7 linked regions of the Homo sapiens genome follow. The protein of the gene in region 7 interacts with the protein of the main gene of each other region in a biochemical or structural test. Each region holds a gene or a part of one and is shown on either strand. Other genes may lie near its edges.

Region 1 (2,465 bases), on a different chromosome or scaffold from region 7:
GTGGTGGCATCGCCGAGCGTGGGGGCATCCGCGTCGGCCACCGCATCATTGAGATCAATGGGCAGAGTGTGGTGGCCACGCCACACGCCCGCATCATCGAGCTGCTCACCGAGGCCTATGGCGAGGTGTGCGGGTGGTGGGTGGTGGCCAGGGGCGCCCCCACGTCCCCCACGAGCCCAGGCCTGCCCTGAGCCCCGTTCCGCCTCCACTCCCCAGGTGCATATCAAGACGATGCCAGCTGCCACATATCGCCTCCTTACAGGCCAGGAGCAGCCCGTGTACCTGTGACCACCTCATCCCTTGCCTGCCACTGTGCCTTCGCCTCCATGGCCCCGGAGCCCCATCCTGGGCCTGCCCTGGCTGGCCAGGACCCCAGCGGTTCTTGGTCCTGTATGATTTCCTAATATAAAAACAGTAAAAGCTTATGCATTTGGCAAAGTCTCGGATCAGGGTCTACGGGACCGAGGACCTTGTCCTTCCTGGAAGCCACTAGAAGCCGGTGCTGTGAAAATACTCTGTTTATTAAAGACCAGGCGGAGGGAGGTAAGGTTGTGGGTTCTGTATGGGAAACTGAGTCCCAGCCCCAGGGAGGGAGAAGGAGGACGGACCAGCTGGCAGCCTTCGAGAGGTCACAGGTCAGTGGCCGGACCCCAGTCATAGCCGTCTTCATCGGAGGACTCCGCATCATGTACTCGCATAAACTTTTTCTTCAGGGCTTCCCGTTCATAGGTTCTGGGGATCAGGAAATAGAATAGATGCTGTGGGTGGGAAGGGTGTGAGCTTTCTCACCATAAACTGAGGCTGGCTGTGCTAGGCACAGTGGGTGTGGGCAGAGATAAGCACATCTGGGCATTCATGGGTAGGGCCTTGTTAACAAACTCCTATGCATCCCTCAAAGCCCCAGCTGCAATATCCTGCCCTTCAAGAAGCCTTCCTAGGCCTCCCAGGAAGTGGATTCCTACTCCCTTGGCCCTGATTATATGGGGCTTAGAGAGGCTCTGGCAGGCTCTGTCTTCCCCACTAGGCTAGGGGCACCATGAAGGCATAGCTTGGATCTAGATCTGAGTCCGCAGAGTCTGAGTCCCAAGGGAAGGGTTGAGGGCCCCAATCTGGAATATGGGGTTCTTACCGCATGCTGTCCTGTCGCCACTGTCCCTGGGGGTGGCGGCTGTCCACCTTGGAGGAGAGGGAGAGAGGAGCTTCAAAACTCCCCCCAGAGCATGGTGAGTCGAGATCAATAACCACCTCCATCCCATCCCCCACCTTGGCCCGGGCCATGCTGCCCACTTGCTAACCCCGTGACAAGTCTGCAGGTCATCCCCAAATCTAAATGAGAAAACTGAGGCTGGGATAGGGGAAGGCCTTAGCTGAGACCTCCTAGCCTGTCAGCAAAAGGGGAATTGGGTTTCTCATCTGTGCAAGTCCTCACAGGGCCACAGCCATGAGTTCATGTACGTAAAGGACTTAGTACAGTGGCTGCTCCGTATGCAGCCTGCCATGGACAGTTGAGCAGGTTGGGTACTGCACAACCCCAGGAAAATCACTCTAATCAGAGATGTCATTGATTCATAGATTTTTACATTGACCTAGAGAGGGTGTGGAAGAAGATGCTGAGGCATATACACTAAGAGCTACATACACATTTGTTACTGTTAAACACCCAACTACAGCTGGGCGCTGTGGTTCACGCCTGTACTCCCAGCACTTTGAGATGCCAAGGCAGGAGGATCACTTGAGCCCAGGAGTTAGAGACCAGCCTGGGCAACATAGCAAGACCACATCTCTGCAAAAAATGAAAAAAAATTAGCTGGGTGTGGGTGGTGGTGCGCGCCTGTGGTCCCAGCTACTCCGGAGGCTGAGATGAGAGGCTCCCTTTAGCTCAGGAGTTGGAGGCCGCAACGAACTATGATTGTACTACTGCACTCCAGCCTGGGCAGCAGGGCAAGACCCTATCTCTAAAATTTAAAAAATAAAATATATAAATTAGATAGGTCAAGTTCAAAAAGACACGCAACTACTATGTGCCAAAACTTGGGCTGAGCACATTGAGTGCTCACCACCGCCCTGTGCCACCAAGTCTGATACCATCCACCCTGTGTCCTAGATGAGGAAACAGGTGCACAGAGAGGTTAAAATGTTGGCTGGAGGCCAGGTGCGGTGGCTCACGCCTCTAATCCCAACACTCTGAGAGGCCGACGTGGATCACCTGAGGTCAGGAATCGGAGACCAGCCTGGCCAGCGTGGTGAAACCCTGTCTCTACTAAGAATACCTTAAAAAAAAAAAAAAATTAGCTGGGCATGGTGGTGCTCACCTGTAATCCCAGCTACCTGGGAGTCTGAGGGAGGAGAAACGCTTGAACACAGGAGGCCGAGGTTGCAGTGAGCCCAGATCGTGCCACTGCACTCCAGCCTGGGTGACAGAGCGAGACTCTAACTCAAAAAAAAAAAAAAAAAAAAAAAAAAAA
Region 2 (3,500 bases), 7.3 Mb from region 7:
CAGGTTGAGTAAAGTGCACAGGCAGAAGGGCTAGCTCAAGCAAAACCGTGAAGTAGGTGAGGTTTGTTTGGGGGCCTTTGGAGCACCCTCCCCTTCCAAGCCCCAGGGGCTTTCCATTTGTTGCTGCAGGCCATTTGAGGCCCCCACCCAGTGCTCTGCCTGAGAAGGCGGCATCCTGTGTCTGGTCTTTACCCTCCCCCCACCAACAGCCACTCAAACTTGCACTTCTCACCCAGGCCAAAAACTAAACTGGCACAGTAACTCTGCCTAAGGTGTTGAGGGTTGATTGGGTACTTCATGGCAGCCTCCCTCGTTAAGCAGAGATTTGCCTTTTAATGGGCACTCCAGCAGGTATGGCCAATAGAAATTTTAGCAGTGGTAGGTGGGTGGAAGAAAGATTTGACAGTGTATGAAGGAGGTGGGAGGGGACAGTGGGCTTTCAGTGTTCTGCAAATCCCAGTATGTAAATGGCTACCTCTCGGCCTGAAGGACTGGATTCCCTTAAGAGGTCTTGACAGATTCCTTGGAGCAATCAAGCTTGGGTCGTCTGGAGGCCCATTCCCTGGTATTAGCATCACCCTGAGGAACCTCTTGTGCCTGTCTATAGGCACTTTGATAAGTGGCTTTCCACCGATGTGCCGCACTAGCTGACAATGTGCTCCTGGGAGCAAGACAAGCACCTGGATCCAATTAGCAAGGTGATTTGAATTTCCTTTCACCAGGGTAAACTAGCCTGGGGCACAGTCTTAGGGTGGGACCAGCTGTGCCCTGCCCCAGAGCCTTGTTCCTGCAGCAAAGGTGCTGAGCAAGCAGGGGGAGAAGTAGAAGGACTCAGGAAACCTAGGGTAGGGGACTGTGGGAGTATGTGGAACAAAAATGAAATAGAGCAGGGGTTGCCTAACCATGGCCCATGGGCCAAATACCACCCACCACCTATTTTTTATGGCCCAGGAGCTAAGAATGGTTTTTAGATTTTTTAATGGTAGGGAAAAAAAATCAGAAGAGGCATGTTTTGTGACATGTGAAAAGTACATGAAATTCAAATTTTCGTATCCATAAATAATTATTGGTAAACAGCCACACCCATTTGTTTATGCATTGTCTGTGGCTGCTTTCATAATCTGACAGCAGGGCTGAGTAGTTGCCACAGTTGCCAGTATGGCCCGCCTGCAAAACCTAAAATATTTACTATCTGGCCCTTTATGGAAAAAGTATGCTGCGCCCCCAAATCGAGGAAGAGGAACAAAAAAAGGTCATGGAGGGATACTCAAAACAAATATCTCCTCCCACTTTATCATTTTGGCAGAGGCAGGGCCAGGGAGGTAAGAGGTAGAAGGAGGAGGAAGAGGAACGAAGGCCTTTAGAAATATTTGCCCCTCCTGCCCCCACACCCAAGGACAAGAGCCAACAAGGGGCTCCCTCCCCACATCCCCCAATCCTGCGCCACTGACCAGGCCTACAGTGTTGAACAAAACGCCCGTGAAGGTAGGAAGTTCATTCAGAATTCGTAGATACTGGAGCTTTGCCTGAATTGCAGAGCCCTGTGGAAAAACCCATCCAGAAATATGAGAAGCCTGAGGGGCACAGGAAAAGCAAACCCATGTTCTCAACGAGGAGTCTCAACATCCTAGGACAGGCACCAGTCAGCAAGTGACACTGTGGAGATGTGAAGATGCCCTTCTTAAAACAGCAGCAAGGTTCTAGTTTGGACAGCTCTTCCCTCTAGTATCTCATCTCCCTTTCTAAAATCTTGTCCTACCTCCTGATCTTCATTCCTAAAGTATCCAGCTTACTCATTTTGTTTTTGGTTTAATTCCAACTAACTGACGCCCCACCTAATCCATACCTCTCTCCTGAGATGTTTCAGACCCCTAGAGTCATGTACATGCTGGTCATTCCCCAGCTGGGGGTCCCACTCAATACCGTTCATACTAAGCATTCCTAAGTCCCAAGCCTGCACTTCAGGCATTCCTGGTCTATATCAGCATCCCCTGGGCAATCAAGCCAGAAACCTGTGAGTCACACTGGACTCCTCCTTAATCGCCTCATGTGAGAGCCAGCAGTTACCAGATCATCTGGATACTTACCCCCTAGCTCCTTTTCCAATCTATCCATCCCTCTTCTCTAGCCAGTCATTGCCTTGACATTCCCACCTGTGTCAGGGTGACAGCCAGGTTACCTTCAGGACTGACACTTGTTTCCCTCTTTCCCTCAAGTGCCTCCACACTGTTAGAGGGAGCATCCTAAAACATAAGTTTAATCACATCAGCTCCCTGCTTTAAACCCTTCAATGGCTCCCAGCTGCCTAGAGGATGAAGTACAACCTCTTTCCTTGGCACACAAGGCCCTCCATGAACTGGCTCCTGCCAACCTCTCTGGCCTCTTCTCTTGCCCCTATCTTCACCCCTTGCACACAGCTTGCATTTTCTGTACTTGCTTAGGCTGAATGATTTGCATTTCTGTCCTTGCACCATGGTTTCTCATATCTCTGGGCCTTTGTACAGATGGATCTCTCTGCCTGGGAAACACTTCCTCCCATGACCCATGCCCACGGATTAATCTAGACAAACTCTTATCTGTCTTTCAAGACCCAGCTCTGGCCTTTTCCACCTCCCTCAGGCTGGGCTTAGTGTTCTTCCTCTGTGCTTCCAGAGCACCTGTGCCTAATGCACTGTGTTGGGACTGACTAATGTGTTTCCCCATTAGACTGTGCCTGACTCAGGGGCCAAGACCAGGCCCTCTTCATCTTCATATTTCCAACCCAAGCACTGGGGTGCCTCGAAAAAAATGTTACCTGAGGAGATGGTGGTGAGCACTGATGCTCTCAGTTGAGAAGAAAACAATCTGATTAAATATTCACAGCAAGGTGGGAATGGCTTAACTCTCCGGGGAAATTTGCATCTTAAAAGAGAAGCTAGTTGGTAATGCAAGAAATCTGGAATGGGAGGAATGTATGGGGCGATTGCGTCCCATATGTACATCTGCATGCTGATTCTAGTGCGTCTCACCACTCTCCTGCTTCTAGGGCAGGAAGCACAGGCAGATTGAATCTTACAAAGCTAAGAAGCTGCTGCGGGGCTTGGGAAAGCAGACAGTGGGAGTCCCTCAGAGCACTAGAAAGTGGAGGCAGTAACCTGATCCCTCACCATTCCACCCAGTGACCCATTCTCCAGGTCAGGTCTTGTGCCCCCAACTCTCCCACTTTCCCCTGGGCTGGGGTTTTGTCTCCCAGAATTCCACACCCTAGGACTGATGAATTAGAGGTACAGAGGTACATTTCCTTTTTTTACATTTTTTTTAAATTATTTTTTTAAAAGTAAAGACGCTGTCTCACTATGTTGCCCAGACTGGTCTCAAACTCCTGGGCTCAAGTGATCTTCCTGCTTTGGCCTCCCAAAGCGCTGGGATTACAGGCATGAGCCACCACACCAGCCTAGTCATTTCCATGGAAAACATGTGCCTCCCTAGGGTCCAGTGCTTTCCACATGATACATGCTCAG
Region 3 (3,500 bases), on a different chromosome or scaffold from region 7:
TGAATGAATGAAGACAAACGGGAGGTGCTTGCGATACACAGCCATTCTGTTTTTCCTTAGTGGAAGGCACTGCTTTGCTGCGCCCCCTCTCTGGATCTCACACTCCACCCTTGACTTTTCGGAGGTGTTTCCGAGGACAGGCGCCTGGGAGCCAGCAGACTTCATTCAGTCCAAGCCAGGCTCCAGGACTCAACAGCTGGTGCCCACGGGCAGGTCACTTGACGTCACTGTTAAATGAGGTGAATTGGCTGCCTGCTCTGGCTGGAAGATTGGCGGGAGAGTCACTTTAGCTGCCATGGACATGAGCCTTTTCTAGGGGTGCCACTTGACTAGAGGCCTGGAGTTGGAGCAAGTCATACACGGATCTGGAGACAGAGCTCTCGAGGCAGGAGCGGGTGCTGCGATTTCAAATATTATAAGGTGGCTTTGTCTGGGGCAGAGCATGCCAGGGGATGAGAGGTAGAAATGTCATCAGATCAGGGGTCCCCAGGGAGGTGACTAGCACTTTGGGTCACAGTAGATCTTTGGATAGAGGAACATGTCACCATTCAAAGGAAAGCACTTTCATCTGTAAGCTGTTTATTGAATAGACCTCAGAGAACATCTCTGCTCACCGCTCTGGAAATGAAGGCAAATCATCTATTTCAGAAGTCAATGCACTGGCAGGGTTTGGATGGGAAAGTATACAATTCAGCTAGAGAACAAAGATCTGTCATCTCCAGCTGTACTGGTCAGATGATTACAAAAAAGAAAGGAATTGAAATACTAATAGGGTACTAATAATGAGGGCTAACATATATGTTGTGCTTATTCTATGCCGGGTGCATACTAATTCATTTGATCCTCCGGACAGTCCTATGAGTGAGTGCTGTAGTCTTCCCTGGGTTACAGCTGGGCAGCTAAGTCACAGAGAAGTACCTTGCTCAGGACTGGTGGTCCCACACAACTGGATGGAGAGCCTCGTTCATAACCACCATGCTGTGCTGTTGACAGAGCAACAGAGATTTTAAACCAACCCCAGCTAAGCCCCAGCTAATAGCTGAAATAAACAGGGCTCCAGATGGCTGTGGCTTAGAGATGGAACAGGACAGATCACAGCCTTCACTCTGCAGGCTCAGGAGCCTGAAGACAAGGTTGCCTCCAGTTGCCGTCAGTGCAGCCCTCACTAAAGAAAAGCAAAAAGAGCCGAGGGACTGTAGGAAGGCTGTTTCCAAGCCAGAGATCCAGACAAACTGCTCTTGAAGAGAGAAAGCCCTTCCAGATTCCCCCATGTCCCAAAAGACCAGCCGGGATTCCGGACCTCTGCTAAAACATGGACAAGAAGCCAGGAACGAGACCTGAAACAGACTTCCCAAACAGCAGAAGCCTCATCCATTTCTCCTGCTAGTACATCCTCCAGGAAAGCCCACCCTACTCCATGCAGCAGCCCAGACAAGCTTGGAGGTCTGCAAGCTGCAGGGGTGCCCAGAAACTCCACCCCTGGAGGTTTTTAGGATCGCCTGCTCCTGGTCTCACCCCAGAGCCTCTAAAGGCAGAGGCTGTATGTACATACCTGGTGAAGAACCAAGGGCTTAGATGGTTGCTTTACTTCTTGGAGCCCTGGAATGTTTGTAAAATTTACTTTTTTTTTTGAGACAGTGTCTCGTTCTGTCGCCTACGCTGGAGTGCAGTGGCGCGATCTCGGCTCACTGCAAGCTCCACCTCCCGGGTTCATGCCATTCTCCTGCCTTAGCCTCCAGAGTAGCTGGGACTACAGGCACCCGCCACCACGCCCAGCTAATTTTTTTGTATTTTTTGGTAGAGACGGGGTTTCACCGTGTTAGCCAGGATGGTCTCCATCTCCTGACCTTGTGATCCGCCCGCTTTGGCCTCCCAAAGTGCTGGGATTACAGGAGTGAGCCACTGCACCCGTGCCAAAATGTACTTTATTTAGGTGACTCTTTCGTGGGAACCTCAAACAAGCAATCATTGCTAGCTGAGTGCTGACCCTGTACTGAGCTCTGGGGAGACAGGGTTGAATAAAACAAAGTCACTGCCCACAGGTAACTTATATTCAATACAATGGGGGAAAATACAATCACTGCTTCCCTGGGGTTGTATTTTTCCATTGTTAAAGTGGGCAGTTTGCTCGAGAGTCATTTTCACTATTGGCAATTCAAATACACCTTTTGTCAGTTAAAAAACAAGTGTGCCAGGGACCTGAGCTTCATCTTAGGGCAGGGTGGGTGGAAACATTTGTGAGTCTCCAGCTTTTAGTCACCTGAAACTTGGAAACTTGGAGGTCTTTTGAGCAGTTTATGAGTCTCTGCCTGCTCTGGTCGGCTGCCTTCTTTTATTGCTCTGTTGGTTTTGCTAAAGAGTTAAAATATTAAGGCTTCATAAAATTAGGAAGTTAACAAGCTCAAAAACCAAGTGTTTGAGTTACTTCATTCCACTGAGAGAGCTGTAAATGGGTTGCATTGGAACTTAAAATAACTGCATTGAGTAAGTGATGGTGGCGGGCACCATGAGCTAACTGTGGTCAGAAGCCTGATGGCCTCCGCTTTGGGGCTGGATTCTCCGTTTGGAGCTGTGTGATCCTGGATGAGTTTCATGCCTTGGATTCAGAAATCAGACTTTCCATGAGCTTATATTTCAAGTGAATAAATAGCTCTGGTCAGGCTTAATTTGAAGAAGAAGTAAGCTTGGCAGTGGGTGAGGGTTCCTTGGAAGGCCAACTGGGGCGGAGGGGCTGAGGGCAAGCGGCTCTGGCCCTTCCTGGGGTGTTACCTGACCAGGTAACAGCTCCCTCGACCTCTCGGAGCCTCGGCAGTGAGGGGATTGGGCCAGTTGATCTCTGAGGCTCCTTTTAACTAGAATGGTCTGGGATTTTTCTAAGAAAACAAGTCTTTGAGGAGGTTGTGGTCACCTCATTCCTAATTTAAAGCCTGGGGAGGCTTCCTTATGAGCTACTTCTTTTTCCTAAATTATTGATGGTTAAAGCCAAGGCTGGCATCGAATAGATGTGATCCATCTTGAGCCTGGTTGCTTTGTGTTTCAGCTTTGTACTGGCTGCTGAAGTCCCCGGGAGACCACAGGGGTGACATGTTCATCTCCAAGAGATGAGCTTCCACGAGACTCATACCCCTTGCTCCTTCCCTGGGGCTCCAAGGCCTTTGGGTCATCTGAAGTGAGATACCCTTGTGTCATTTCATCTTTTCCTTCTCCACCTTCTCTGCCGTTAAAAAAAAAAGAAGAAAGAGAAAAATCCTATTAATAGAGAAACCGAGAAGTGTAGCCATTCTGAATGTGTTTCCAAAAGGCTCCTGGAAGTGGCATGGAAGTTACAGTGATTCAGCACTACTTGGTGACGTGTGCCTAGAACCACAGGGGGACATTAGCCAGGACAACACGCCTCAGGACAGAAGTAAGTGGCTGCGAAGAGGCATGTCCATCACTGCCGGAAAGATGCAGAGTTCAGTTTTTGGAGTCAGTGCTGAGAGTTCCATTTCTAAATTCAT
Region 4 (3,500 bases), on a different chromosome or scaffold from region 7:
GAAACAGGCCTTTAAGATGGCTGTTCCCAGGAAGTAAGGACTATTTTTCTTCTCATTAATGTTAGCATTACTTATATTTATGAGGCTCTTGACAGATTATAAATCAATTTTACATCATGAAATTTGTACTTGCTTAATTCACTTTGTGCAATGCCCGACATAGTATCCTATACAAGGAGAAATTTAATACATGCTATTGGGGATGATAATATTAAGAATCATTATTTTATCATTAGTACATATTTTTCCATGTGCCAGCCATGGGAAAAACTCTTTATATTATAATTTAATACCTAAATTCATGGGGCTGAAGGTACTGTCAGTGACCTCCCGATCTTACTTTTTTTATCCTGGTAAGAATCCTTGTCCATTTTTTATATATGGGACTATATTCTGCTTTCAAGGTACATCTCTGGCTATTTCCCCAGAGCTCAACTATGTATTTAACTTAATTCTCTCAGGCTGCCACTCCAGCTGCTGCAGTTTGCTTTGCTTCTTTGTCTTCAGAGGAGACACAGAACAGTTAATATCCTCTGTAAGCAATTGCTTTCACCACTGGGATTAAATAATTTCTGTTTCTTCGGTCCTTCCATAAACATTATTTTCCAGTACTCTGTGGTTCACTCCTGAACCCTGTCAAACACTATGGTCTTGAGGCCCAGATGAAGGCAAAATTTGATCAAGGCCCTCATGACAGACACATTGGCATTATCTCTTGCACTGTCATGGAAGAGGTACTGTTTATGTGTTTTATAATGATAAAATAGTTTTATTCCTTTATAATGAAGTAATTTTATATCTTTTACAATAATAATAGGTATTATTTATTGAGTACTTACCATATGCCAAAGAGTACATGAACAGCTTTACTAAATTCCTAATCTTGTTATTTAACCTTTATACTAGCTCTATGAGGTATTTATTAGTATGCCTCGTTTCGAGGTGAGGAGCTAAATCTTAGAAAGGTCAAGCAATTTGCCCAAGGTTACTTAACTGATCAGTGGCAAAGTAAAGAACCAAATCTTGCCTGATCAATTTTCAGGTCCCTGCTGGTAGCCCCTTTTCTGGTTACCTCTATCTACTGTAGCTTCACCTTTGTGAATGGGAGTTGCCTATACTGACTTTACAGTCAGATCGTGAATGTCTGCCCACTTTGTTTAATGATTCTTGAAAGAAGTTATTTCACAAGTCCTTTGGAGGGGAAAAAAAAAGAAAAAACCCTGAGTGCACAGGTATGAAGCTACTGGTTTAAGTTACAGATGTTTTACTGCCACGCCACTAAGAAAACTCTATTAAGAACGATGTTCTATGTATGTAAAGTTTTAATTAAGGAACATCAGAATTCTATTAGAGAACCAAGGAAAATGCCAATGAAAAAAGTCTCAAACGTTGTCTGCTCTCTCTATAAAAAATCTACACATTTAAAAAGATTTACTTATAGACCTGCCTCAGAAGTATGAGACAATTAAAAAATGATTGCTTCCTATCATTTGGAAAACAAAAGCAAACCAAAAAACCAAATCAAGCCAAGCTATCCTCAAAACAACAACAACAAAACCTCAAAAACTAACAAAGAAAACAATCCGTGAAGTAAAACAATAAAAATCAGGAAACATTATTGAAGATGTTTTAAGGAATTACTATTATTGTTAAAATGAGGGATGTTAAAAAAAGAAATCACTGACATTATGTTTCTAGTTGTTTAAAAGAACTTTGATATATCTTCAAAAAAAGAGAATGCTGAAAAATCAACAATGGCATTTCCCATTTGTAAGCATTCCCAGCAAAATCCTGTTAGTAATTTTCAGTATAATACAGAACAGGGAGTCAGTTGGATGAAGGCCTCCAATGCCCTCTACTCACATAAGAGGTTCCAGAGACCTGGGTTTTATGAAGATGGCAATGGGATAGAGCTGGGCAACTTGTAACCGCTTGATAGCATTTCCTGATACATCAAGTATACAGTGTTTGCCCTGGTAGAAAGAGAAGAAAAATATGAAGTTAATATAGGAAGCATGGCCATAATCCAACAAAAGGAAACTAATGTATGTAGGTTTTAGAGGAAGGTAGGGGATGCTGGATTTCTAAAGTCAGAAAAAGATCACTGCAAAGAGTAAATAAAAATCGATATATAGGGTCATCATTGAGTGTTTACAATAACTAATACTAACTAGCCCCTTACAAAGTGTCTGCTACTGGACTGGACATTTTACATATGTTCTCTCAGTTAAATACCTGATGTAACACACAAAGATGACATGCAGCCGTATGTTATGTGACTGAGTCTGTTCTCATGAAGTTTAAAAACCATCTCTGAACACAATTGTCAGAAGAAATTCCCAAATCTCTGAGGTAGGTATTATCAGCTGCATTTTACAGAAGACTCACACTAACTAACTTGCCCAATAGTTTAGTGCTAGGAGCATGCAAACCCAAGTCTGGAGCACTAACAGAATTGTTGGTTGGAAAAAATAGACACCTCATTGTCTCACCCTGCCCAACATTCGGTGTGGAAGATTGAGAATAATGTGAATTTTTCCAAGTACTTGTACATATCCTGTCTGCAAGGTACTCAGTCTAGTGGAGGGCAGACACAAAAATGGTTAACTTAAACATATGGTTGGTTGGGTGCAGTGGCTCATGGCTGTAATCCTAGCACTCTAGGAGGCCGAGGCGGGTGGATCACCTGAGATCAGGAGTTCGAGACCAGCCTGACCAAAATGGTGAGACCCTGTCTCTGCTAAAAATCCAAAAAGTTCACCAGGCATGGTGGTGGGCACCTGTAATCCCAGCTACTTGAGAGGCTGAGGCAGGAGAATCACTTGAACCCAGGAGGTGGAGGTTGCAGTGAGCTGAGACCGTGCCATGGCATTCCAGCCTGGGCAATAAGAGTGAAATGCCATCTCAAAAAAAATAAAAACTATATGTATATATATATATATATATATATATATATATATATATATACACACACACATATAAAATATATAATTAAAACATATATATATATATATATATAAATTAAATGCGGGTTAAATGCCAAGAGAGAAAGGCTTGCATGAGGTATGTAAATTTCTTGTTTGTTAACAAATAAAAATGCTATTACATTATAGCACACCTCATTTAACTTGGCTTCCACCACAATGAGTGCTCAGAGCAAGCAGCTGCTTTATAAAGCATTTCTGGATATGCAGATACATTTGCCACATCATATTCTACCTCCTGGAGAGAAATGTCCTCATTACCCTGAGGCTAGAATAACTTTATGCAAGAAGAGAAAAAAGGCACTTTATGCAGATAGGAACAATACTAAATCAATAATAAGGGCTAAAATCTCATCTATAATGTTCACATGAAAATGAATACAGTCCAGTGAATACTTGAAGTCTTCTTATCTGAGAAACCCACTAAGATGGTTCAAGCCGTTATTACTTAGGTAATAGATTTCAAGTTTTCTATCTGTGAAGTGCAGCAGCCACATAACATGTATAAATGCTGGT
Region 5 (3,500 bases), on a different chromosome or scaffold from region 7:
ATCTGTTTTCTTGCTCTCTCCCTCATCCACAATAATGGCACAGCCCAGACAGGGGATGCTCCTTGAGCCAGGGTTCCAAAATAAGAAACGTGAAGCAATGCTGCAGTCAATCCACAGCTGACAAGGTGTAGCATAAGCAAGAAGAAAAGCAGTGTTGTAAGCCACTGAAATTTGATAGTGTTGCTACAGCAGCATAACCTAGCAAAAGAAGACAGATACACTTATTATGGAGTAGGTGCAAAAAATAAAATTATAGGCTGGTATATATTTTTAAATGTTTCAGAAGATAAACCAAAAAAATTAACTATTGTTACCTATGAGGAGAAGGTATGAAAACTAACAGGTGTGTAGGAATACTTTTTTTTATACCATTTTATATGATTTGAATTTTCTGTGTGTGTATGCGTGTGTGCGTTTAACCTGAGCAGCAACATCTGGGTAGTTGGATCATTTGGGCCATTTATTTTTCTTCCTTCTGCTTTTCAGTATTAAAAAATAAAAATATAATAAGGCTACCGATAATTACTTAAAAATGAATAAGAACTATTCTTATACCCTTGAAGAACTCACGTATTAGCTAACAATTTAGCTTTAAATAAAGCCTTCCCCCATTCATTGTTAATTTTTTTAACGTCCAAGGCTAAATACTGTATATATATATATATTTAGGAGTATGACATACGCCATTTCGTTTTTTTTTTTTTTTTTTTTGAGACGGAGTCTCGCTCTGTGCCCAGGCTGGAGTGCAGTGGCGCGATCTCGGCTCACTGCAAGCTCCACCTCCTGGGTTCATGCCATTCTCCTGCCTCAGCCTCCCCAGCAGCTGGGACTACAGGCACCCGCCACCACACTCGGCTAATTTTTTCTATTTTTAGCAGAGACGGGGTTTCACCGTGTTAGCCAGAATGGTCTTGATCTCCTGACCTCCTGAACCGCCCACCTCGGTCTCCCAAAGTGCTGGGATTACAGGCGTGAGCCACTACGCCCGGCCTGTTATATGCATTTCTATCAGTTTGCTCACTTTCAGGTTTCAGCAAAGCAATATAGTGTTTTGTATATGGATGGTACAGTTACTAATCTCAAAGGAAATTCTCACAATTTCATTATTTTAGTATGCCAGTTAAATTGGCAAAGAGGTTTGCTCTAGTTACAGTTGTTCAAGGGAGAGAATACAGTCATGGGTTCTTAGTTTCTGTTTCTGGATGGGCCAGTAAAGCCCCTTCCTCATCCCTCTTTCCGTTTTATCACTAGAGACAGAAACTAAAAACCATGGCTTCAGGCTGCTGAAAGCCTAAAACAAAACAAAACAGAAGAACAACAGCAAAATAAGGCAGGTTGGACAAGCTTGCTAGGTGTTAAGTTTGGTAAATATGCCTTAACCAGTACTAGAGCAAGGAATCTATTAAGGAAACTCTTCTAGGGTAAAATCATAAAGGAGCATTGAAAGAAAGGAAAAAAAGGGGAAAAATTCTAATCATGACTCTTGTGGTGATAAAACAACACTTGAATGGTTACAGAAATCAAGTTTAATAGAGTAACACTTTACTACATGAACAAGTTTTAACTTCAAGAGAGCAATATCTGAACATAGCAGTAACCTGCAAATGACTAAGAACATGTCTGTACTTTTCATCCTAAGATCTCAAAGCACTTCACAAACATTCATTTAACTCTCATATCACCTGAGAAGTAGTGATATAATAATACATCATTATAACCATCTATCCTGCCAATACAAAATATTTAAATACCTCTTCAGCAGCACTTGCCCTAAGAAGGTCTTGCTAAACAGCCAATAAAACAGGAAATAGGCTGACAGTGCATATGCCACCAACAATCTCTGAAAAGATCAGACCTTCACCCACAAGAACCACTTCCTCTCAGTAAACCACAGAGACTGTACTGGGCAAACCACAACATATCGGCTTGTGTCTGGAACATAGGCAGATAACCCATCTAAAATCTATGGAAGGGTATGTCTAAGCACCTTCACAGGATTTCTTGTGTTAGCAAGTGTATTTGGGGTATCTGTTACTCTTCTGGATAACATATAGCCACTTTCTGCATTACAAGATCAATTTCAGGTATCATTCCTTCAGAGGCTGATGAAGTCTCCAGTTTTTTTTTTTTTTTTTTTTTTTTTTTTTGAGACGGAGTCTTGCTCTGTCATCCAGGTAGGAGTGCAGTGGTGCAATCTTGGCTAACTGCAACCTCCGCCTCCCGGGTTCAAGTGATTCTCCTGTCTTAGCCTCCCGAGTAGCTGGGATTACAGGCATGTGCCACCTGGTCCGGCTCATTTTTGTATTTTTAATAGAGACAGGGTTTCACCATGCTGACCAGGCTAGTCTTGAACTCTTGACCTCAAGTGATCCGCCCACCTCAGCCTTCCAAAGTGCTGGGATTTACAGGCATGAGCCACCGCGCCTGGCCAGTTTTTCTACAACAAAATAATCTACATTTTTTTGAATCCATAAAAGATCTACAAAGTCCTCTTTGATCTTTTGAGTATATGAATGTAAAATCAACATTTATATGTAATATTTGACAAAAACTGTAGTATCAGAGTGTACCTTTAAATGACTCTAATGTGTTATATAACACCAAAAGAAAAAGCAGTGTGACAAGCAGCTAATTGAAAGCATTAACTAAAACCAGGCTCTCTTATATAGTTCCAATTTCTGCATGAATTGTTACTTGCAGTCCAAGACAGGAAACCTACTTTTCATTGGCCAGTAGATTTGCTTGTCTCTAGACACTGAGAAGCCACCCAGGCCTGTCATGTGACTGTGATCTCAAAAACCAGGACTCAGCATTTGAATTAGTAAAAGATCCTGTTTCGGTATGAATCTAAACTGCATTGGTGCATGCTAATTCAAGAGGTAAAGTTAGTGTATTTTTTCTTTTACTAAAAGTCGACACTATATACTCATGCAATTTAGGCACAGCCTCTGACCAGGCACTAGCTTCATAGGCTTCTATTGGAGTTAGAAGCTGTCTTATAGCGGTCTTCCCTATATGACTATCTTGATGATTCCAGATATTCTAAGTTGAAAAAGTAAAATGCTCTAAATTTGGCATGTTTGCAAATTTTAGTATTACCAAAATACAAAATATTAATATTAGCAAAATACAAAACAAGGACATCTATCTCAATAATTTGAAACTAAAATAGTACTAAAGAAAATATGCTAATAAAGTATTCAAAAGGTCTACAGTCTTACAGATTTTATAATAATCTAAATATGCACTTTTTCTGTTACACTGTCTTGTCATTAACAATTCTTGTAAATACAACAGCAAGAAAGTAAAATATTTCAATTTTCACAATATCCATTTTACTGAAAAAAAAAATACTGCTAAGCATTGTTATTTCACTAACATGTGGAAATAAGAGGAGACAAAACAATAAGGTAAAAATAAACCAAACATCGAGGAATGTTTTGACCTACAATTTAAGATAACGAACTGAAAAACCACTGGAAAAAATAAGAAACAACTTC
Region 6 (3,500 bases), on a different chromosome or scaffold from region 7:
CCCCTCAGTGTCTGCTGGGGATTGGTTTCAGGACACCCGCATCCCCCACCAAGGATATAAAAATCCATGGATGCTTAAATCCCTAGAAAATAGCCTAATATTTGTGTGTAACACACACACACACACACACACACACACCCCTTCCTATATTATTTATTTGTTTGTTTGTTGTTTGTTTATTTATTTGAGACAGGGTCTTACTCTGTCACCCAGGCTGGAGTGCACTGGGGCAATCATGGCTCACTGCAGTCTCAACCTCCCTGGCTCAAGTGATTCTCCCACCTCAGCTCCCGAATAGCTAGGAGTACAGGCACACACCACCATACCTGGCTCATTTTTTATTTTTTGTAGAGACAAGGTCTCACTATGTTGCCCAGACTTGAATGCCTGGGCTCAAGCGATTCGCCTGCCTTGGCCTCCCAAAGTGCTGGGAGTGCCACTGTGAGCCACTGCACCCCACCTCCTATATACTTTAAATCATCTCTACATTACTTATGACATCTAATACAATGCAAATGCCATGTAAATAGTTGTGATACTGTATTACTTAGGGAATAACGAGAAGAAAAAAATCTGTACGTATTCATCACAGCTAAAACCATTGTAGGTCTAACAAATTTTCTATCTGTGATTGGTTGAATCTAAGGATGCAGAACCCACAGATATGGAGGACTGACTGTATGCAGAAATACTAGGATGTTTTAGAGTAATTTTTGGCAAAAATGATCTAACAAAGCCTATTAGCATTGCTAGCCTTAATTATTTTAAGGAAGAAGAAAGTGACTTAAAGATAAATCAGAAAGTCTGTTTAAACCAAGCTGTTCTCTTTCATCCTCTAGTAGAGGAAACATCTGGTGACTTAACATGACTTCCGAATCCTTAGATCTGGCTTCAGAGGTGACTCTGACTTAGCCTGAGTGTTCTTGGACATGGACACCTGCTTTGTGGTGTGGCACATAATAATTTTAATTTACTTAATTCTCCTTGCAAGAATACTGAGGAAAGCAGTTAATGCTGACTATTTGTAGTTAAGGATCATGGCTTGGGCTTGATTCGGAATTATCAAACAGTGATGGGTCCTGTGAAGAACTTTAGGGCTCAGTGACTATTCCCACTGTTTATCCCCGTGTCTTCCATTATTTCACCTGTTCAGAGTATTTTGTTTCTTTGCCTATATTGAAAATCTTCCATCTGATCAAGCACCACCATTCTTGTCCTGCAACTGTGTTCATCTTGGGGGTATCATTGCTTTTATCAGTAAAATAATCCTTCTCTTTTTTCTCCCCTCTCTGCAGTTCCAGATTACCAGGAACAGGACATCTTCCTCTGGAGAAAAGAGACTGGATTTGGATTTAGGATTCTGGGTGGAAATGAACCAGGGGAACCTGTGAGTCTTTTGCTTGTCTCTCTTCCCAGCATATTTTTCTAAGGCTTCAAAGCAAATTGGCGACAGTGACAAATCACCAAGATTTAAGTCCAGCTAGATGCAACACTGACTCTTTAATCTTGAGTAGTGTGGGTTTCTCATTGGGTTTTGTGGAGCTCTCTTTGTCTTGAGGAAGAAGAGACTAGATTCTTTCTAAAAAGTTTGTATGAGTGTTTGTGAAAGGTGGGAGCTGCCTCTGTAGACCACCCCTTTTCCCCCAAGGGAGATGAAAACAGAAAGCAAAACAGGAATAGGCATCACCTAATATCACAGTGGCCTGGTCCTTCTGGCCAGGTCCCTTCACTCTGCCAGCAGGTAGTAGGCTTTGTATGTTGAGTTGCTGGTGTGCAGAGAGTACTTCGCAAAGCCTTATGAGACAGTGATTGGAGAATGTCAGACCCCTGCCTTTACAAAACTTGAGAAAGAACCCTGAGTAAGGGTCAAGAAACATTGAACTTCCCTGGGCCTCAGTGTCCTCCATTTTGGAATAAATTTAGAATAACATAACAGGGTTCCTTTGAAGGAAGAAAAGAAAACTGAAATAGGTATCGTTAATTTCCTTGTGGTAATAACAGCCATTATTCATCGAGCGCTTACTATGTGCCAGGTTCTGTGCTAAAGGCTCTTAACATACATTCTCTCATTTATCCGTCAAACCCACCAGTTTATCCCGTTTTCACATCAAGGAAAAGAAAGGCTAACTAACTTGCCCAAGATCGCAGAGCTACCAAATGGAGGGACTGACAAATAAGGTCTGACTCGAGTTCATGTTCTTAGCAACTATTTTGTCAAAGTTCTTTGTAAACTATAAATGCCACGTAAAGGTAGCTATAGCATTATTGTCTGCTGGAAAGGCAAGGCAGGCACAAATATTTTAGCTAAGGTTTAGTGAATGGCAAATATAACAGCAAGACACTAACTATAAAGAGTGCTCTGCTTTCGGGTGCTAAAAGACTTCAAAAATGGAGATGTCCAACCAACTTTTGCTTCATTCATTCATTTAAGAGTATTTATTACAGATTCCCTATTCCTAGGCATGATGCTAGACCCTTAAATAAAAGTAATATTAATATTTTAATTAGCAGAGTTTTATGGAAAGAGAGTTTTTAGGTAGCTACCAAAGAAGAATAGGGTATATAATGAAGGGAGAAAAGTAATTTATATCTGCAAAGGGGAAAAAGAGAGTGAGTCATCAATAGGCCACAGATAAACATCTGGAAACTAAGCAAGAAATACTCTTTCCACCATTTAAGAATTGTTGCAGTGCTTAGCACAATGTCTTGTACACAGTGGGTGCTCAATAAATGTTTGCGGCATGCCTGCAGACATGAATGAATGAATTGTTCCCAGAGATGTGAAGGCTATTGATGTAACAGTAAACATAGGAGAGCAATGTTTCATCCATCGTTCAATTACTCAACAGATTTATATTGGTCACATCGTACCACTGGGTGCTGCTGATACTGACGGCCGCCTGAGGTCTGGAGATGAATTAATCTGTGTGGATGGGACGCCAGTAATTGGAAAATCACACCAGCTTGTGGTCCAGCTTATGCAACAAGCTGCCAAGCAAGGCCACGTCAATCTCACGGTGCGGCGTAAAGTGGTTTTTGCGGGTATGTATTTCATTCATTCCTTCAGACAGTGCGTTGTCACTTTATTCACAGAAAAGGCCTCCTTCCTGTGTCTGCCTCCTTGAGCGTCTATTTTAGCAAATGTTTGCAAATGTGATCAAGCTCAGAATTTCCAGATGGCTTGCTTCTCTCAAACCCTGCAAAAATTACTGTCATTCTAAAGTACTTTAATGTGCCGTTTGCATGTGTTCAACAAAGGCTTCCAGAGGAAGGCTAGTTGAATATATATTACTTCCCTTCTATCTCCTTGCAAATCAGAACTTAGCCATCCTCTTCATTTGATGCTAATCCTCAGCAAATGAGGTCATTATGAAAGTCAGAAGAGTTGTAGCTTCATATCAAGGGAACAAAAATCGGGTTTGTGCTACAAAATAAGCTCATAAAAAAGTTACTGATTTCTTACTGTCCTATGTATTAAACCAAGATTTTTTTTTTTTCTT
Region 7 (3,500 bases):
TCTGTATTCCTACTCTAGTCCTCCATTGCTTGCGAGTCTGAAATGATCGTCTCCACCTGTCAGTCATATCTTCAGGTTTATAATGCATCATTGGCAAAAGTGAACTAGAAGTCATAATCATTTTTCTTGGGTTTTTGTCTTTTTCTGGATCTTAGCCAATAGCAATTTCTATTTCATTAGCTTCTTAGGGCTTTTAGTGTTTTATCCATGTGTTTATTTGCCTTTAGCACAAGAGTCATTGCAAATTACTCAGTCTTTCATTACTAGAAGCTGATGCAACAATATTCTGTCTGTGTATTTCCTTTGTAAGCACCATAAAAGCTGGCATCTTTTTAGATGAACTCTTTGTGATGGCTAGGGCAAAATCTGTGAACTCTTGAATTTGTAAGTCAAACTTACGTAAATTCATTTTTGTCTTTTGGGACAAGCTTCACGACTTTTTATTCAAAGGTGTCTATGCTATACACAGGCAGAACAATCTACAATAGAACAATCTTAAAACTTAAATGTATTTGATCAATAAACCCAGAGTCAAAATATTTAGATGATATTAGTGAAGATTAAATAGAAGTCTTGATCTTGTTGCACACTTTACCTCAATCTTTACAAAAACATAAATATGAAGAAAAATTATTTACACCAACTGGAAAAGGAAAAAAACATGAAAGTAAAACCCCTAAAGTCCAATTGTTTAAATTTCTTGGCTTTAATATTAGCACTGTTAAGGCATTTATGAATACCTCAAATATAAGCAATAAATGATCATTTCTTTCCCTTTAAACTGCTACAAATCTTTAAAGAAACAAATTTTTTTTTCTTTTTGTATACCCAGAATTCAAGAAGACAATTAAAACTGAGAGAAAATAGTACATTTTAGGTGTCATAGCAACAAAAATTTAGACATATTTACTTGATGATGATTTAGATTGCATTATTAATTTTTCTACTGAAAAGGATAGGAATTTAGAATAAAAATACTAAGGTTAATATTCTGGGATACATGTAACTTTTCAATATAAGATTGAAATGTTATATTTTTAAAATTTAGACTTTAATTAGACTTTATGTCTTTCTCATTTTCAAAGCATTTTAAATATTTCAAACATTTTGTATCTGTGTTGCAGAATTCATTGGCATACTAATGCATAAAATAATTTAGCAGCATAAATGGAAACTTTATATTTACATATTAATACACATTACATTCCTTTCATTATTGTTAACCTAAATATCAGATAAATAGGTTAAGAATAATTACTAAATAAAAGAACCCGATCAAACGCAAATGTTACCAGTCGACGTCTGTACGTTGTTCACAGTACATAATCCGAAAGTATTGAGCATAGCCGCTGCAATTCTTATGGCCAAAAAGTTTTATTTACCTATAGAAATTGCCCAAACAATAGCAATCTTCATGATGGCCTTAGTCCGCGAATTGAAACGGCTATGCTCAATAGGATTACGTATTGCTACATACCGATCCAGCGATATAGCGCAGAGGTGCATGATGGACGCTGTTGAAAATAAAACATCTAAAGAAATCCAGACGGGGCACAAATATCTAGGTAGTGGCCAGACATAATCTGAAAGAGAACAGAGAGAAGACAAGAACACGTCATCCAAATTGTACTGACTATAGTCTCAAATTTTAGTCTGCTTATATTTTCTCATAATCTAAACCTTTTAAAGAAAGTGAAATTTAGGAAGCATTATTTTCTATAGGGATGATGATGGTGATCATGATAATGATACCTTCAGCGTGACATATATTTTATTGAGGTAAAATTTACACAACATAAAATTAATCTCTTTAAAGTGTACAATCCAATGGCATCTAGTACATTCACAATATTGTGCAACTAGCATCTGTCTCTAGTTCAGAAACATTTCATCACTCCAAAAGGAAACTGCATACCGTTAAGCAGTTACTTCCCATTCTCCCATCAACCAGCTCCTGGCAATCTCTAATTTGCTTTTTATCTTTTTTTTTTAATTATTATTATACTTTAAGTTTTAGGGTACATGTGCACAATGTGCAGGTTAGTTACATATGTATACATGTGCTATGCTGGTGTGCTGCACCCATTAACTCGTCATTTAGCATTAGGTATATATCCTAATGCTACCCCTCCCCCCTCCCCCCACCCCACAACAGTCCCCAGAGTGTGATGTTCCCCTTCCTGTGTCCATGTGTTCTCATTGTTCAATTCCCACCTATGAGTGAGAACATGCAGTGTTTGGTTTTTTGTCCTTGCGATAGTTTACTGAGAATGATGATTTCCAATTTCATCCATGTCCCTACAAAGGACATGAACTCATCATTTTTTATGGCTGCATAGTATTCCATGGTGTATATGTGCCACATTTTCTTAATCCAGTCTATGGATTTAACTAATTTGGATATTTCATATAAATAGAATCATACAATTTGTGACTTTTTGGGTCTGGCTTCTTTCACCTAGCTAATGTTTTTGAGGTTTATCTATTTCGTAGCATGTATCAATACTTAATTCTTCTTTGTGGCTGATGCTGTTATCAATTGAGGTTTTTTTGGAAGCTGTTGTAAATAGAATTGTTTTCTTAAATTCTTTCATGGATTGTTCATCACTGTGTATAGAACTACAAATGTCCTGCAACTTTGCTGAATTCATTTATTAGAGCTATGTTTTGTGTTGACTCTTTGGGATTTTCCATATATAAGATCATGTCTTCTGCAAATAGAAATAATTTGATTTATTCTTTTCCAATTTTCCTCTGCCTTTTATTTCCTCTCTTTGCCTAATTTCTCTACATGGAATTTTCAGTACCATGATAAATAGAACTAATGAAGTTGGGCATTCTGCCTTTTTTCCCTGATCTTAGAGGAAAATCAGTCTTTCACTATTGACTGGGTTTTGTTTTTGTTTTTTATAAATGCCTGTCAAGGACATTTTCTTTTATTCCTAGTTTGTTGAACATTTTTTTATCATAAAAAAGTGATGGACTTTTGCAAATGCTTTTTCTGCATCAATTGACATAATCATGTGGTTTGCATACCTTCATTCTATTAATGTGATACATTACATTGATTAGTTTCTGTATGTTGAATCCCTCTTGCATCCCTGAGATAAATCCCATTTAGTAATGGGTATATAATATGGTGCTGAATTTAGTTTGCTAGTATTTTATTGAAGACTTTTGCATTTATATTAATAAACAATACTAATCTATAATTTTCTTGTAATGTCTTTAGCTGGCTTTGATATTAAGATAATGCCAGTCTAATAGAATATATTACAAAATGTTTCTTCATCTTCTATTTTTTAGAAGAGTTTGAGAAGAATTGGTGTTAATTTTTGAAATGTTCGGTGAAATTCAAAAGGAAAACTTCTTGTCTTGAGCTTTCATTGTTGAGAGGTATTTGATCACTGATTCAATGTAGTTACTTTTTATATGACTCTTCAGATTATTTCTCCTTGAGTCACTTTTGGTAGTATGTGTGTTTTTAGAAATTTTTACAT

What was found.
Region 1: the proteins of HTR2C (region 7) and TJP3 interact in a test that uses a peptide from one of them, tested with the Homo sapiens proteins (one large-scale study listed by IntAct).
Region 2: the proteins of HTR2C (region 7) and FRMPD3 interact in a test that uses a peptide from one of them, tested with the Homo sapiens proteins (one large-scale study listed by IntAct).
Region 3: the proteins of HTR2C (region 7) and HTRA1 interact in a test that uses a peptide from one of them, tested with the Homo sapiens proteins (one large-scale study listed by IntAct).
Region 4: the proteins of HTR2C (region 7) and DLG2 interact in a test that uses a peptide from one of them, tested with the Homo sapiens proteins (one large-scale study listed by IntAct).
Region 5: the proteins of HTR2C (region 7) and ARHGEF12 interact in a test that uses a peptide from one of them, tested with the Homo sapiens proteins (one large-scale study listed by IntAct).
Region 6: the proteins of HTR2C (region 7) and MAGI1 interact in a test that uses a peptide from one of them, tested with the Homo sapiens proteins (one large-scale study listed by IntAct).

Annotation. Positions count from the first base shown.
Region 1 is NC_000019.10:3,748,849-3,751,313, reverse strand, and holds the end of TJP3 (tight junction protein ZO-3), read right to left. Parts: intron 1,177-2,465; coding exon 1,130-1,176; intron 733-1,129; coding exon 630-732; 3' UTR 501-629; downstream 1-500. Other genes in the region: APBA3 (amyloid-beta A4 precursor protein-binding family A member 3), read left to right, coding at 1-125, 217-409. UniProt on the Homo sapiens protein: TJP1, TJP2, and TJP3 are closely related scaffolding proteins that link tight junction (TJ) transmembrane proteins such as claudins, junctional adhesion molecules, and occludin to the actin cytoskeleton.
Region 2 is NC_000023.11:107,561,152-107,564,651, reverse strand, and holds part of FRMPD3 (FERM and PDZ domain-containing protein 3), read right to left. Parts: intron 1,542-3,500; coding exon 1,452-1,541; intron 1-1,451.
Region 3 is NC_000010.11:122,464,553-122,468,052, forward strand, and holds part of HTRA1 (serine protease HTRA1 precursor), read left to right. Parts: intron 1-3,500. UniProt on the Homo sapiens protein: Serine protease with a variety of targets, including extracellular matrix proteins such as fibronectin. HTRA1-generated fibronectin fragments further induce synovial cells to up-regulate MMP1 and MMP3 production.
Region 4 is NC_000011.10:83,464,845-83,468,344, forward strand, and holds part of DLG2 (disks large homolog 2), read right to left. Parts: intron 1,974-3,500; coding exon 1,864-1,973; intron 1-1,863. UniProt on the Homo sapiens protein: Required for perception of chronic pain through NMDA receptor signaling. Regulates surface expression of NMDA receptors in dorsal horn neurons of the spinal cord.
Region 5 is NC_000011.10:120,342,913-120,346,412, reverse strand, and holds part of ARHGEF12 (rho guanine nucleotide exchange factor 12), read right to left. Parts: intron 1-3,500. UniProt on the Homo sapiens protein: May play a role in the regulation of RhoA GTPase by guanine nucleotide-binding alpha-12 (GNA12) and alpha-13 (GNA13). Acts as guanine nucleotide exchange factor (GEF) for RhoA GTPase and may act as GTPase-activating protein (GAP) for GNA12 and GNA13.
Region 6 is NC_000003.12:65,381,419-65,384,918, reverse strand, and holds part of MAGI1 (membrane-associated guanylate kinase, WW and PDZ domain-containing protein 1), read left to right. Parts: intron 1-1,295; coding exon 1,296-1,387; intron 1,388-2,849; coding exon 2,850-3,042; intron 3,043-3,500. UniProt on the Homo sapiens protein: Plays a role in coupling actin fibers to cell junctions in endothelial cells, via its interaction with AMOTL2 and CDH5. May regulate acid-induced ASIC3 currents by modulating its expression at the cell surface.
Region 7 is NC_000023.11:114,846,086-114,849,585, reverse strand, and holds part of HTR2C (5-hydroxytryptamine receptor 2C isoform a precursor), read right to left. Parts: intron 1,584-3,500; coding exon 1,383-1,583; intron 1-1,382. UniProt on the Homo sapiens protein: G-protein coupled receptor for 5-hydroxytryptamine (serotonin).